Linked DNA regions of Homo sapiens: region 1 is linked to region 2. A link means that fine-mapping ties the variant in region 2 to the expression of a gene that starts in the linked region. Tissue or cell type: lung. Region 2 holds a variant in brackets; the other region holds the start of a gene. All regions are shown on one strand. Distances are between the middles of the regions.

Region 1 (8,181 bases), 41 kb before region 2:
AAATTCCAGCTATTGTATTCTTCACTTATAAAATTTTTTTTTTTTTTTTTGAGATGGAGTGTCACTCTGTCACCCAGGCTGGAGCGCAGTGGTGCGATCTCAGTTCACTGCAAACTCCACCTCCCAGGTTCAAGTTATTCTCCTGCCTCAGCCTCCCAGTAGCTGGGATTACAGGCACATGCCACCATGCCCAGTGAATTTCTGTATTTTTAGTAGAGATGGGGTTTCACCATGTTGGCCAGGCTGGTCTGGAACTCCTGACCTTGTGATCTACCCGCTTTGGCTTCCCAAAGTGCTGGGATTACAGGTGTGAGCCACTGTGCCCAGCCTAAAATTTCAATTTGGTTCTTCTTTTATCTTTTACTCCTGTGCTGAGCCTTTTATCCTTACATTCATTTCAAGATTATTTGTCCTTACTTGTTGGAGCATCATTATAATAGCTGCTTTAAAGTCTTTTTCAGATAATTCCAACATTGGTGTCACCTCAGCAGTGGTGTCTGTTGTTTGCCTTTTCCCACCCAAGTTAAGATTTTCATGGTTCTTCAGGTATTGAATAATTTTGGGTTGTATCCTGGACATTTTGAATATTATGTTATAGGACTTTGTATCTTGTTTTAATACTATGGGGAAATATTCATATTTTTGTTTTAGTTTGTAATAGACATGCTTGGGTTTAGATCACAAGTTCTGACATGCCTTTTGTGGATAGTGGCTCCAAAGTCAATTCAGTTTTCAAAAGTTTGTAATGCTATTCAGATCTGTCCTACATGTGTTTTATCCAGTGGCTAGTCTAGGGCTTGGGTGGTGGTCTGCCTCTTAGTTCAGTTATCACAGTCTTTGGTATGCTGTTTAGGATCAGATCCATGTGCAGGTTGGGGTGAACCTAGGAGTTCATAAAAACTTTATGAGGACCTTTCCCAAGGTCCTCTCCTCTCTACTGTCTCCTTGGTACTTTGTAATGCCTTGGAGTTCCCCTTTTAATCAATTGGCAAGAAATCTAGACTATTTAATTTATTTAAAGACAGGGTCTCGCTCTGTCGCCCAGGCTGGAGTACAGTGGTGTGATCATAGCTCACTGTAGCCTCGAACTCCTGAGCTCAAGTGAGCCTCCCACCTTAGCCTCTTGAGTAGCCAAGACTACAGGCAAGCACTACAGTGCCCAGCTAATTTTATTTTTAAATGTTTCATAGAGACAGGGTCTTGCTACATTGCCCAGGCTGTTCTCCAACTCCTGGCCTCAACAAATCCACTCACCTCAGCCTCCCAAAATGTTGGGATTACAGGGGTGAGCCACTGTGCCTGTCCAGAAATCTGGGTCTTTATTTAATCCTCTCTGTTATGTATTTCCTGAAACTTTGCCCATGTCTTGGGCCAAGCATCAGGACAGAGAGAGTGAAAAAATATATATCATTGAGGTTTTGGCCCCACTGTCTTGGGACCAGAGCTACTTCAAACAGAGAGGAAGGTTCTCCCCTCCCTTAGCATTTTTTGGGTGCTTGAAGGTATTGCTGTCTCCATTGTCACTGTTGACTGAGGTGCCACAGTGGGATTGCTTATTGGCTAAAATGTAAGAGAATGGAGAAAAGAAAAAAAATGGCACATTTCTCCTACTTTCTCTGAATATTAGGAGACCAATTTTCTGCTTTTCCTGGAGCTCTCTCTGTCCATGTTGATGCTCCCTTCCGGGTGTTAAGCTGCCTTGAGTCCAGTCTAGTGGAGACTGGAGGAAAAAAATGGTAAACTCACCGCCAGTTCAGTTTTACTTCAAATTCTGTTGTTTTTCCTCAGTTTATGTGGTACAATTTACTTTCCAGAGTCCTCAAATAGTTGCTGCATGCATTCTGTTCACATTTTATAGCTGTATTCAGTAGCAGGTAATGGGTTTAGTGTGATTATTCTGTGTTAACTGAAATCAGAACTCCTGTATTATATAGGTTAGTTTTCACACATAAATATGTAGAGATAATGGAGTGTTTTCTTTGGTGTGTATTTGTGAATGGTTGGGACTAGTCTTTTCATACTCTACCCAAGGGAACTACTTTACATAATAAATACTCTTCTGGTTATCTATTGCTGTGGAAGAAACCACCCTCAAACTTAGTAGCTTAAAATAACACCAATCATTTTATTATGCTACAGTTGCAGATGTTGGTTAGGTTCAGCGACATGGTTCTTGCTTGGGGCCTCTCATATGTCTACAGTAAGATGGTGGCTGGGAATGAATTGATTTGAAGACTCATTCATTCACATGTGTGGCATTTGGGCTGGGAACACTCAAAAAGTTGGGTCTCCTGTGGCATCTACCTCTATTGCTACATGGTCTCTCTACATGGTTTCTTCAGTATGTCAGCTTCCAGGTAGCTAGATTTCTTTGTCTGTTTGTTTGTTTTTTTGTTTTTGGAGGCAGGGTCTCACTCTGTCACTCAGGCTGGAGTGCAGTGGTGCAATCTTGGCTCACTGCAACCTCTGCCTCCCAGGTTCAAGTGATTCTCGTGCCACCACCTCCCAAGTAGCTGGGATTACAGGCACACACCACCACACCCGGCTAATTTTTGTATTTTTAGTGGAGACAGGGTTTTGCCATGTTGGTCAGGCTGGTCTTGAACTCCTGACCTCAGGTGATCCGCCCGCCTTGGCCTCCCAAAGTGCTGGGATTACAGGCGTGAGCCACCGTGCCCAGCCTAGCTAGAGTGGAAAGTGACAGAATGAAACAGGCAGGAGCTAGATTACCTTTTATGACCTAGCCTCACAAATCACATAATCTCCATTACCACATTATATTCTTTGAGGGAGTCACAAAGGTCCACTGAGGTTCAAGGGGAGGGAACATAGATGCCCCTTCTTGATGGGGGATGGTAAGGTTCTGGGATTGGAAATATGATTGTGGCCATCTTTTTAAAAAATACAATCCGCCACAAATACTAAGAAGTCTGTACTTTTAAGGTAGCTCCTGAGTTGCCCTTTTCTAAAGAGAGAAATTCTGTCCTTGAGTACTGGGCACCCAAAGGGGCATAATATTATGACCAACACAGTGCCCATCCAGGTTTTAAGTATTTGCAATTTTATTGGAAACCTGTGTGGAACTTCAAGGTATACGGATGTTTGCAGGGGCTGAGTGACTGCCTAGAGGAGTTGGGAAAGGGGCTAGCTAAAATGTAGATGAAGAGATTTCCCTGCTTTAAAGAAACCACTAAACAGCTTTGGCAGAGTGCTCACCTACAGGGGAACCAGGAAGGCTGCAGTACTCCAAAGAGTTTTCTTACCTAATGCTACCTCTACCCTATTATTTCATTTGGTTAAGCATCACCTTCTTCAATGAATCCTCTTAAAAATGCAAACTCCCCTGGGAGCGAAAACATGGGCAGTTTTGGTAGAGATTTCAGAGTGGTTCAATAAACACATGAGTACAGTGCTAAGCACTGGGAACTCAGTGATTAATCTGATCTTGTTTCTTCCTTGACCAGAGGAGCAAGGTGGATTGAAGATTCTAGTTTTCCTGAGAATTTGTTCCAAGAGGCTTCATCCTTCAGAGTCCACGCCATAATTTTGTTCAGAGCTGGGTTTGGTCTTAAGAGTCATTAAAAGACTCTCTGAGCTACCAGGTGAGCAACATAAAAGAAAGGGTCATCAGGGTAACCCCCACCCCCCACCACCACCTTAGGACCAGCTACTGCTCATCTACCAGGAATGGCAAGCGTTCAGTTCCTTCTGGTTCAACCCTATTCCCCAAGGGGATTAGTAGCACAGCGCAGACGAAGTCTATTCCCTCAAGTGAGGAAGGAGATACTTCAATGCCCTCCCCCGATTCCAACTCCTTATCAGTCCTCACATTTGAGTCTGATGAGAACAGAGGTTTGAATGAAACCTAGCAGATTCTGGGGCTGGAAGGGCAACCTGAGAGATGAGGAAAGAGAGGTGTAGGGGCTAACGTGGCTTCGGGGCTGCTCGGTTCACTGACAGCCCCCACTTTACTGGGCCCAGGGCGGCTGCACACTGGCCTGAGATTAAACACTTCGCCGTGGCGCCAGAGACGGGACTCGAGACCGCAAGGCTAGTCACTCCAAGCCGATGCTCCCGCTAGGCGCCGGCGACCTCTGGCGTCCCCTTTCGGAAGTGCGGCGGCGGCTGCCCATGAACTGGCCCCACGACCCCAGACTGCCTGGGCAGGTGCGCCAGGACGGGGTGAGAAGCGCAGAGAGGCAAGCAGCCGGCGGCCGGCCCGCAGACCCGAGGGCAACACCCGGCCCCGCCTGGGTGGCTCGGTTGGCCCGCGGGGCGGTGCGGCGTGGCGCGGCCGGGGGACGAACAGGTGCGCGGGCGGGGGGCGGTGCTTGGGGATCCTGCGCACTGCGCGCGCCCCTCCCCCGCGCGGCCCCGGGCGCAGCCCCGGCCCGGCGCGAGTAGGAGGAGGAGCTGCAGCGGCCACGGCCACTCCGGCAGGTCCGCGGTGCTGCCAGAACCCGCCGACGGCGCGGGCTGCTGGTCCCCGCTCGGAGGAGGCGCGGGGGGCCCCGGGACCATGGAGCCTGGTGACGCGGCGCGCCCTGGCTCGGGTCGGGCTACCGGGGCGCCGCCGCCGCGGCTGCTGCTGCTGCCGCTGCTGCTGGGTTGGGGGCTGCGAGTCGCGGCCGCGGCCTCGGCCTCCTCCTCTGGGGCGGCGGCGGAGGACAGCAGCGCCATGGAGGAGCTCGCTACTGAGAAGGAGGCGGAGGAGAGCCACCGGCAAGACAGCGTGAGCCTGCTCACCTTCATCCTGCTGCTCACGCTCACCATCCTCACCATCTGGCTCTTCAAGCACCGCCGGGTGCGCTTTCTGCACGAGACCGGGCTGGCCATGATCTATGGTGAGCACCCCTGTTACACCCCCCGCCCTCCACACCCCTCGGCCGCCGCGCTCCTCCTGGCGCCGCGCGGTGCTCCCCCTTCACTTGCCAACGTGTTCCGTTTCTTTTACGTTTCCCGCTGCGACGGTGTTGGTTCCCAAGGTCAACTGTCTGCATTTTCTGGCTCTCTGCTACCGTTAAAAACAATTCCACCCCTATTCCACGTTTCTGCATTGGGAACCCAGGAAAATGAAAGGGACAGAGGTGGTCCGGTTCCGTCTGCCCCGTTCGGTCTCTGTTGCAAACCTCTTACCCACCACCTCCCGCTCCAGTTGAGCTCGATAGGGTGTGTGTGCCTGCGTGGTGGCTGGAGGTGGGTGGCTTCCCAGGTGACTGCATCACCTCAGGGGACAGGCCACAGTAGGGAGTGGGGACGAAGTCTGAAAGTGTCTTTGCTTGGGTATGGGTTAGTGGGGCCTCTTGGACGCCACATCCATGGTCAGCCTGGGTGGGTACCCACTCCTGAGGTCCACATTCCCAGGTCTCTTAATGATAAAGTCAGAGCATGAAGTGTGGTGAAAGGTGAGCAGTGGTCCAGGACCCAGAGTGGGTGGCACCACCATGTCAGGCCTGGACGAGGAGACAGGCACGCCTCCTGCTCTTATGTCCCGAGTGGAAAGTTATACCCAGTTACTTGCTTTCTCAAACGAAGAGGAGCTTTTGTATTCCTAAGACGGTAACAGGGAGTGAGTTTGAGATACATTTCCGAATGTATGAAGGGGAAAAGTCGTGGTTTTAATTCCGGAGTCAGCCATCTTTTGTTGTTAGGGGTGGGCTGATGCTACCATCCTTTTCTAGATTTAATGGTACACAGTGTGTTACATGCACAGTGGTCAGTACAAATCTCCCTTTATTACATGGATGTCAGCCATAATCTGAGTCATCCCTCTTCCTCTTCTGTGCCCCCTGCCTCCCCCCTCGCCCTGCCCATGACTCCAAAGTGGAGTCAGGTATTCTCTTTTTGAATGTAATTCAGTGGTGTTAAAGCCCCTGAATTGGCATCCTCACACGAAATAGACGAGCCACTTCATGATTGTTCCCAACGGGGAAAATTTTATTTTATCACATATACTGAGGGATTTCTTTATTCAGTTTCCATCCAGGTGCCCTGATAGAGAATGGAAAGCAGAAACCTTAACCTTTAATGTGAAAATTACCCTTGGTTCTGGGCCTTGCTTCTCATGTTTCTTGATTAGTTGTTGACAGCCGGGGCTCATGGCCACCAGGCCCTCGCAGCCAAACCGTGTAAGGGGCAAGCGCTGTTAAGAGCCCTCCAGTTTTGATGAAGTAGTGACCTACACAGATCTTGAAACAGGACCAGGTCTAAAACCGAGTTTGGTGATTGCGAATTATAGGTCTCAACACAGACTTTGGCCTCCATCCCTGACCGTTGTTGAGCTCTGTGGTTTGTGTCAGTTGGTGATAAATGACTGATGCCAGGCCTGCAGGTAAGCTGGGAGGTTTCCTGAGAAGACAGACAGGGGGGAATTGAAGCACGTGGTCATTGCAGGTGATTGACTCCAAGCCATGATGCAAATGAAAATTGCCTTTATATAGATAACCGTGAAAATATTTTTATTTAATAGGCCCTAGACCCAGTTTCTTAAAGGACAATGTGAAATAGGAGGTAGATTTGTCAGATTCGTAAACACATGCTCAAGGGATGGAAAATAAATGGGGATTTGAAAATATATTTTCTGGAGAGTACTCCGTGTTCTGAGGAGTTCAATCACCTTTATCTTAAGGCTTAAAGACAACAGTGGAATTTTCCTTTGCTGATACGTACTTTTAAAACTCACCTCCATCTTTCAGCCATTTGGTTGTGCTACAGTGTACTGTTTTATTTTGTGAACAATCAAGTTACAAATCTAGTGTAACTGATGGCTGTTCAGAAAAGGCAATATCATCTCAGCATTCCTGTGTAATTTTGTTCTATATCTTTGAGTATTAGTGTTTCTTTAAATGTATAAAGAAATTTAGTTTGTCAATATGTGATGTCTCAGGTTATGCCAAATATTAATATTTTAAGGACTGTCTGTAATTGTGAGAAAACATTTCTTCTTTCTCTCAGGTATGTTTGGTCTTCTACTGCAAGGTCCCCCTAATCTGAATTCTAATGTCATGTGATTAGCTAATTATTCATAGTATACTGAAGACTATTGGGATGGGGATTTTAAACTGATCTTAAAATTCAGTTTGCAAATCTTTTAAAAAATTGTCTGCATTTAAGATGTACAACATGATGTTTTGATAAACACAATGAAATGATTACTACTGTCAAGCAAATCTTTGAACACAAGTAAATCCAGTAAAGATTTTTCAAGACTTCTCTTTTTTAATAGTAAAAAATAAAATTTGATTTCTCTATATCAATAGAGGAAGTGAGTAATTGTCCTCTTGGCTCTGAATAAGGAACGACAAAAAGACCTAAGGAAACATTTTTAAAGTATCCACTGTGTGCTGGGAACCCAACTTAATTTCTGGAGGCAAACAATTTAACTTTTAAATGTTTATGAATGAAAGAGTTCAACTGTGAATTTCAAAACTCTTTATTTTGAGAAAAAGTTTTAAAATGTAATTTCTGCCACCTTTTTGTGTTTAAGTGACACTTTAATCTGAGAAGAACAGCGTTTACATTTAAGATAAATTTATATATATATAAATTTATATATTTGTTGGTATAGTCGTAAAATATCTCTGGAAGGACATGCAATAGATGAGTAACATTGGTTTCCTTGGGGGAGAGGAACTAGATGGCTGTGAAATAGGAGTGGGAGGGAGAGGTCACCATATAACCTTGTATGCTTCTTGGTCTTGTAATAGCTTTTTTTTTTTTTTTTTTCCAAGACGGAGTCTCACTCTGTCGCCCAGGCTTGAATGCAGTAGCGCAATCTCGGCTCACTGCAAACTCCACCTCCCGGATTCAAGCAATTCTTCATCTCAGCCTCCTGAGTAGCTGGGATTACAGGCGCCCGCCACCATGCCCGGCTAAATTTTGTATTTTTAGTAGAGATTGGGTTTCACCATCTTGGCCAGGCTGGTCTTGAACTCCTGACCTCCACCCACCTCAGCCTCCCAAAGTGCTGGGATTACAGGTGTGAGCCACCGCACCCGGCTGTAATAGCATTTTAACGTGCTCCTCAAATCACTCAATTTGACGCCTACTTCTCCCTATTTAAATCACATTATGTTATCAATTTTCTTCATGACTTTTCAATTCTTAATTGTGCCCTTGGAGCTTTTCTGAGCCCTGTGTCTGGGATGGAGATAAAATGGGGAAAGGGGAAGAGATTTCTCT
Region 2 (8,181 bases):
AGAACGTTACCTGCTGCTTACTAAGGAAGAATCTTCTGGAGGTTTTCCCTGTACCTCTGATTGGAGCCCACAATAGAACTTGTGTATGGCATCTAATAAATTGCAATCCCAGTGTGACAAAGACCTGTAGGCACAGAGAAGAAATAACTTGGTCACATAAAGTTTTGGAGTTCCCAAATCACTCATTTAATGTTATTTTTAAACATCCATCTCTCATTTGGTTACTTTCTTTAATAGTCCAATTCTTTATGTGTAATACAGAAATCAAATATAAATGGGATTGATAAAAGTCCTTCTTTGCCTCGTGGAATTTTAGTTTTTACAAATAACCTTAGAATAATTCAGGTAACTAAGGTATTTGGAGTAACAGTGCTTACTTGTACATGAAGAACTCAACTATCACTCTCTGTTCCCCATTTTTCTGCAAGTAACTCAATTAGCTAGATTAACAAACATTGTCACAGAAACAAAGTGTTTTTTTTAAAGCTATGGATCCTTGTGTTTATATTTTTAAAAAGCCATAAACAGGCATTTCTACCTTATTAAGAGGACTTAAACAGGTGTTTAAACACTAAGACAGTGATGATTTTAAAACATAATAAAACTCTAAGTTAAGGCTTTTGTTTTGAAACCCACATTCATAGCTACTTATATGTGGAACACCTTTGTATTTGGGGGCAACGTGCTATTAAGGCTGTTGTTGACCCTAGTACTCACTACTCGCCCTTACACACACACACACCCCCACACCCACACACACACCCACCAGAGAGAAACAGTGTTTTTTTAGAACCCAGGACCATCAAAATAGTTTTTTGACTTATCAAGCCTTGAACTGGAATAGGAAACCCACATTTGTTCTAGTGTTTATGTGTTTAATAGTTCATACCATGAAGTTATATGTTGATTGCAGATGTGGGAAGCAAAATGGAAAAAAATGCATCTTGCTGACAAACATCGCCGACTGCCTTCACTAACTGCACTTAGCACAATACGTAATCATCTTTTCTCTTTGTTTACTCATTTATGGGCTACCCCTCCCTACCTGCTCTAGACTGAAGTTGAGAAAGGCAAGGCCTTTGCTTGTCTTCCTCGAGATTGCTCAGATATTGTTTGCAAGAGAGTCCCCATAGCCTTTGGTGGGTTGGTGGCTGTGATAGGGAGGGTCTTTTGTCAACCCTGGGCCTTCACTTTGGAAGCTGTGCTGTGTTGCAATTAATTCTAATAAACCCATGCAGCATCTGAAGATAACCCCACAGGGAATTGAATTTTGAAGCAAACGTGTTTATTTCTTGGAAGCTTAATGGATGGATTGGAAAAAAAAAAAGAATCATTTGCTTCTAGCTTTGGAAGCCAGAGAAACCACAGGCTGAGGAGCATGCCCTTGTCCCTCAGTCTCCTATTAGCTTGCAGCTCTAATTTCTATCCAGGGTAATATGACCGAGGGGAACTATTTGCATCTTTGAAAATTCCACTCTTCTGCTGGCTTATAACAATAGAACAGTGCAAATGTATCTTGTGTGTTCTCTACCATTATGGATAATTACTAATGAAGTCTCTTTCTGGCAATTCTCATTAAGTGATTTAATTTTAGAAGTGGAAAGAACCATACCTATTGGAACACTTGAATCTCAACAGACTATTAAACTTTATTAAGAATAAGAATTATTCCCTGGAATTTTGTAAGATCACCTTAAATCAAATTATATTTTCAAAAAGGACCATAAAGATAATTGCAGTAAGAAAAAATGTTTTAAATCATTATTAATGTAGTTATATGTATAAGGACCAGAGGCGATCCTTTTGTGGGCATGCCGATTTGAAGTCCTTTGTTCAGCCTGTTTGTTCTTAAGTTTAGATTTTGTTGTACTGTGAGGCCTTACGTTTAACATCCACTCATGTGATGCTTTATCACTTTTTTGAGAGGTTTTATTCTGGAAATTCAGGATATAGTCTTGGCAGTCTAAAAACGTAGGTGGTTTTGCTTTGTTATATCATCTCAGTGATCTTCAGGAGTTATTTGGATGATCAGTTCCATCAGCTAGGGTCCCCTTCTTTTCTCTTCTCTGCCACGGCTGTGAGGGAGGTCTTGGAGGACAATAATGCCAGGTAGAGGAGGATGCAAGGTGTATGTGGGGAATTCTGAGGAGTTGAATATGAGTGTTTATGTGTAGGGGCAGATGGCAGTGGGAAGTGAAATTGGCAGGTGCCAGTGCTTTGTGGGCCTTGAATGCCATGTTAAGGAGCTTGGATTTTTTTTTTTCCCATGGATGATGAAGCTGCTGAATAATTTTAAGCAGGGTCATGGCGTGACTAGCCTCATTTGTGATTCAGAGAAATTAGTCTGGTGGCTGATGGAGAAGGAATGATTGGGGAATCAGGGGAGAAGCAGGGGGGATAGTTAAGAAACGACTGCAGAAAATCCAGTCAGGGAGCTTGAACCAGAGTAATGATAATAAGGAGAAGAGGGGGTGATCAGGAAAATACTTGAGAAGTAGAGTTGGCAGGAGTGGGAAAGGACAGGATATGGGTGTGATGAGGTGCTACTCAGTGGCACTAAGTTTTTATGCTTGAATCAAATAATTGCTCAAGTCCTAGAACCAAAGTTAGTTTCTGAGGAAAGTCTTGTTTGTGATTATAGAACTTCTCTTCAGCAGACAAGAATATGCAGGTCAAGATCTTTGATTTCTTTTTCATAACAAGTATCATTACAACCAACATACCTGGAAGATGTAGCCTATAGATCTTTTATGTTACCAGCTATTGAGGTCCTCAGTAATGACCTTAATCATGTTTGTTGTTCATCTTGTTCTTGTCAGAAGGCTGGCTGAAAATTTTGGTATTTGAGAGAGGAATGTTCTTAAGGAATATATTACTTACTAGTTTCTCAAAAAACAATTTAAGTCAAAACATCAGGAAATGACAGATTAGACCATGTTATTGTGCCCTTCAGCCTTTCACTCCTGGAATTGCCCTTATAGAACCAAACTAACTTTATGTCTTTAGTTTTCTCTTAGAGCTACTCATATATGGAATGCCTTCACATTTAGGAGAAAAATGTTATTAAGGCTATTGACCTTCGTGGCCCCCTCCCCCTAATTTCCACAAAACCCTGAGATAGTTTCTTCTTAGAGCACAAGACCAACAAAATATTTTTTTGAGTTATCAAACCTTAAGCTAGAGTAGGAAACCTATGTTTGTTCTAGTGTTTTCTATTTTGTTCTTGTCAGCAAGAAGCACAAAGTTTTAAGCTTATTTTCTATGGTTTTCCTCAAACAACTTTTAAAATTATTATTTTTGTTGTGCTCTTTTATTTATTTTATTTATTATGCTCATATATTAACTGGTTTTGTGTTTTTAGTTTAACCCATTTTAGTCAGTTGGATAAATTTTTTTTATTATACTTTAAGTTCTAGGGTACATGTGTACAATGTGCAGGTTTGTTACATATGTATACATGTGCCATGTTGGTGTGCCGCACCCATTAACTCGTCATTTACGTTAGGTGTATCTCCTAATGCTATCCCTTCCCCCTCCCCCCACCCCACGACAGGCCCCGGTGTGTGATGTTCCCCACCCTGTGTCCAAGTGTTCTCATTGTTCAATTCCCACCTATCAGTGAGAATATGCAGTGTTTGGTTTTCTGTCCTTGTGATAGTTTGCTCAGAATGATGGTTTCTAGCTTCATCCATGTCCCTACAAAGGATAGGAACTCATCCTTTTTATGGCTGCATAGTGTTCCATGGTGTATATGTGCCACATTTTCTTAATCCAGTCTATCATTGATGGACATTTGGGTTGGCTCCAAGTCTGCTATTGTGAATAGTGCCACAATAAACATATGTGTGCATGTGTCTTTATAGCAGCATGATTTATAATCCTTTGGGTATATACCCAGTAATGGGATGGCTGGGTCAAATGGTATATCTAGTTCTAGATCCTTGAGGAATCACCACACTGTCTTCCACAATGGTTGAACTAGTTTACAGTCCCACCAACAGTGTAAAAGTGTTCCTGTTTCTCCACATCCTCTCCAGCACCTGATGTTTCCTGACTTTTTAATGATCGCCATTCTAACTGGTGTGACATGGTATCTCATTGTGGTTTTGATTTGCATTTCTCTGATGGCCAGTGATGATGAGCATTTTTTCATGTGTCTGTTGGCTGCATAAATGTCTTCTTTTGAGAAGTGTCTGTTCATATCCTTCACCCACTTATTGATGGGGTTGTTTGATTTTTTCTTGTAAATTTGTTAAGTTCTTTGTAGATTCTGGATATTAGCCCTTTGTCAGATAGGTAGATTGTAAAAATCTTCTCCCATTCTGTAGGTTGCCTGTTCACTCTGATGGTGGTTTCTTTTGCTGTGCAGAAGCTCTTTAGTTTAATTAGATCCCATTTGTCAATTTTGGCTTTTGTTGCCATTGCTTTTGGTGTTTTAGACATGAAGTCCTTGCCCAGGCCTGTGTCCTGAATGGTATTGCCTAGGTTTTCTTCTAGGGTTTTAATGGTTTTAGGTCTAACATTTAAGTCTTTAATCCATCTTGAATTAATTTTTGTATAAGGTGTAAGGAAGGGATCCAGTTTCAGCTTTCTACATATGGCTAGCCAGTTTTCCCAGCACCATTTATTAAATAGGGAATCCTTTCCCCATTTCTTGTTTTCGTCAGGTTTGTCAAAGATCAGATGGTTGTGTATGTGTGGTATTATTTCTGAGGGCTCTGTTCTGTTCCATTGGTCTTTATCTCTGTTTTGGTACCAGTACCCTGCTGTTTTGGTTACTGTAGCTTTGTAGTATAGTTTGAAGTCAGGTAGCGTGATGCCTCCAGC[T/C]TTGTTCTTTTGGCTTAGGATTGTCTTGGCAATGTGGGCTCGTTTTTGGTTTCATATGAACTTTAAAGTAGTTTTTTCCAATTCTGTGAAGAAAGTCATTGGTAGCTTGATTGGGGGTGGCATTGAATCTATGAATTACCTTGGGCAGTATGGCCATTTTCATGATATTGATTCTTCCTATCCATGAGCATGGAATGTTCTTCCATTTGTTTGTGTCCTCTTTTATTTCATTGAGCAGTGGTTTGTAGTTCTCCTTTAAGAGGTCTTTCACAGCCCTTGAAAGTTGCAGTTGGATAAATATTTAAAGTATGTTTCTGAAATGAATAAAGATTGGGGCCAGGCATGGTGGCTCACACCTGTAATCCTAGCACTTTGGGAGGCTGAGATGGGTGGATCACTTGAGGTTAGGAGTTCGAGACCAGCCTTGCCAACATGATGAAGCCCCATCTCTACTAAAAATACAAAAATTAGCCAGGTACAGTGGCGCACATGTGTAATTCCAGCTTCTCAGGAGGCTGAGGCAGGAGAATCGCTTGAACCCCAGAGGTGGAGGTTGCAGTGAGCTGAGATTGTGCCACTGCACTCCAGCCTGGGCCACAGAGCAGACTGTGTCTCAAAAAAAAGATTTTGGATGACCCTACATCAGTATTTTTTGGGACATTTAAGAAGATGACTGCTCCTTGTGCAGTAATTTTCTCTTAAAAACTTCAAAACACTTTATTACACAAATACAAGAAAAATTAACACAAGTATCAGGGTGATTTTTGTGGTACAATGTGGCATTTCTAATCACCTGACCTTTGGTATAATTAGTATGTATAATGTATCTGTCCATCTTATAGAACTCAGAGCACCTTTTGAGTATTTTCCAGGAATATGTAACACAATTTCAACTTTGGTTTTTATGACATAGTTCTTGTCTGCAATGCTGATTACTTACTCAAGAATGGGACACCCCCTTCCCAATTATTTCACAATTTCTTTAGGAAAATGCGGTTATTCTGGTGGATGCGTGTTGCCATAACTCATGAGACCAGGTGTCCACAATGGAGAAGTAGGGCTAGGATTTTTTGTTTCATTTCTGTCCTGGGCAGCCTTTATCGTTTTGGTCAGAGTTCTGGCTTTATCCAGAAGCCAAGTGACTTCAGTACAAGGTGGTTTCCCCTTCCCCAAACAGCAGGGAACTAGAATCAGAAACAGGAAAAAATAAATAAATAAAAAGAAACACATTATGATCAAAATAGCTTCAAATAAGGTTTTAAAGCCACTTGGGTACTATTTGCCTATTGATATCAGAATCGTCCCTTCTTGTTTGGGTATAAATCAGTTAGATCTCCAATTTGCTAATGGTTACAATGGATATTTTAAACCAGAAGAGTCAGTACATTTATGATAGCCATAGAGTCTGCATGATTCTATATTTAAAGTGTTTTAGGGGGTGAGTGAGTGGGAATTTGAGAACAGACTTGGGCAAGGAAATTCCTTCCCCTCTGTGCTTTTGTAGCACCTGTGTCTGTTGCAGCATTTGTGCTGTGTGCTAGAGCTTCTGGTCTTACTGAAGAGGATCCTGCCTAAGTCGTCTCAGGGTTCATAGCATCCAGTGGCTGAATGTTTATTGAATTAAGGCAGGCAATAGGGATTCCTTTCTTGGTTTATCAATGTTTGTTTCTTCTCTTTTTAATAAAGAAACTGGCTGGTTTCTATTTGCGTGCTCAAAATAAGCATATCTTTACCAAGTCAGAGCCCTCTAAGGCCCTGCAAATTCTCACCTTACCACTTATCCCCTTAATGATATATCATGCATCTAGGTTTATGCATCTGAGCATTGGACTGGGATCTAGAAGTCTCAGGTCTGAGTCACTCCTTCAGTCTTCAGTACCCATCTTCACTTGAGCAGACCACTTAATATCTCTAGACTTCAACATCTTGATTTATAAAATAAGATTACTATTATAAGTCAGGGGCTGTCTATATGTGCACTGCCTGCCTTAAGGACTTTTGCCAGAAATAAAATTAAGTAATGTACAGATGTTCCTTGACTTATGATGGAGTTATGTCCTGATAAAGCCATCATAAGTTTAAAATATTGCAATTTGAAAATGCATTTAATGCACCTTACCTACCAAACATCATAGCTTAGCCCAGCTGACCGAAAATGTGCTCAGAACACTTACATTAGCCTGCAATTGGGCAATATCATCTAACACAATGCCTGTTTCATAATAAAGTGTTGAATAGCTCATAATTTATTGAATACCATACTGAAAGTGAAAACAGAATGGTTGTATGGATACTCAAAGTTCAGTTTCTACTGAATGTGTATCGCTTTTGCACCATCTTAAAGGGGAAAAATTGTAAGTCAATTCTAAGTCAGAGGGCATGTATAAGGCTTCTCAAGACTGAAAAATACACTCTGTGCGACATTTGTCATTTTCAACTAACCGAGAATGAGGGCACATTCGCAAAAATTTGATTAGATTCAGAATTTAACCTTATACCACTGGACTCATATTTTTGGGATCAGTGAATCATAATGTAGTTATTAACAATTTTGTGACCATTTCCAGGAACTAACTGTAACTGAGCCATTACAAAGAAAAAGCTGTTCAGTTATAGGGACCCAAAAATATACCAAATCAGTCAAGTGTTTATTGAATGCCTACTGTATGCCTGTTACTGTGCTATTCCACATGTGAAATAGAAAAGAAATCTTACCTATAGGTCTGATCCTCAAGGAATTTACAGTCTAGTTAGGGAGGGAATAATTTAAGAACTGGACTAATCTGTGATATAAATAAATACTTTAAAAATTCTTTAAAAATTATTTTTAGGATACTTATTGAGAGAAATGAGATATCAATGTGAGTAAGGAGCTTGGGTAGGGTCTTAAAGAGTTGAAATTAAACCTGGGAACATAATCCAAGTGGAAAGGAATTTTGTCAAGATGGAATAATTTAATCTAGCGCAATGTCTGATATATAGTACATGCTCAATAAGTATTAATTTGCTTGATGAATGAATCTCTTTCAACAAATTTATCTTCTAGTTTGCCAGTTCTCTCTTTACTGTGTCTAGTCTGCTGTTGAACTTGAAAATGAAATAAAAATGCTAAGGTCATGTTTTTCTTTTCCAGGATTTCTATTGGTTCTTTCTAAACTCACAATCCTCTACTCCACACTACACTCCTTAACCCTTTCCCTGCCTTATTTTTAGCCATAGCACCTACCGTATTCTAACATACCATGTAATCTACTTATTTTGTTTCTTATGTTTCTTCCCTTATTAGAAATATAACGAAGTCCAGAAAAGCAGGAATTTGTATTTGTTTCGTTCACTGACATATATCTCCAAACA

Evidence for each region. PIP is the estimated chance that this variant, and not a neighbour inherited with it, causes the effect.
Region 1: SLC9A7 starts here. The variant in region 2 is fine-mapped to the expression of SLC9A7 in lung (TOPMed, PIP 0.93).

Annotation. Positions count from the first base shown.
Region 1 is chrX:46,755,368-46,763,548 of GRCh38, reverse strand. It overlaps SLC9A7 (solute carrier family 9 member A7), which reads left to right and starts at 4,431. Exons shown (of 17, transcript NM_001257291.2): 1 at 4,431-4,844. The coding sequence starts at 4,520. RefSeq lists silencers at 4,150-4,499, 4,520-4,659.
Region 2 is chrX:46,714,660-46,722,840 of GRCh38, reverse strand. All of the region lies in intron 1 of SLC9A7 (solute carrier family 9 member A7), which reads left to right. Among named protein-coding and RNA genes, the nearest start is that of SLC9A7, 40 kb to the left of the region's middle. The variant T/C (reference allele first, on the strand shown) is at 4,828.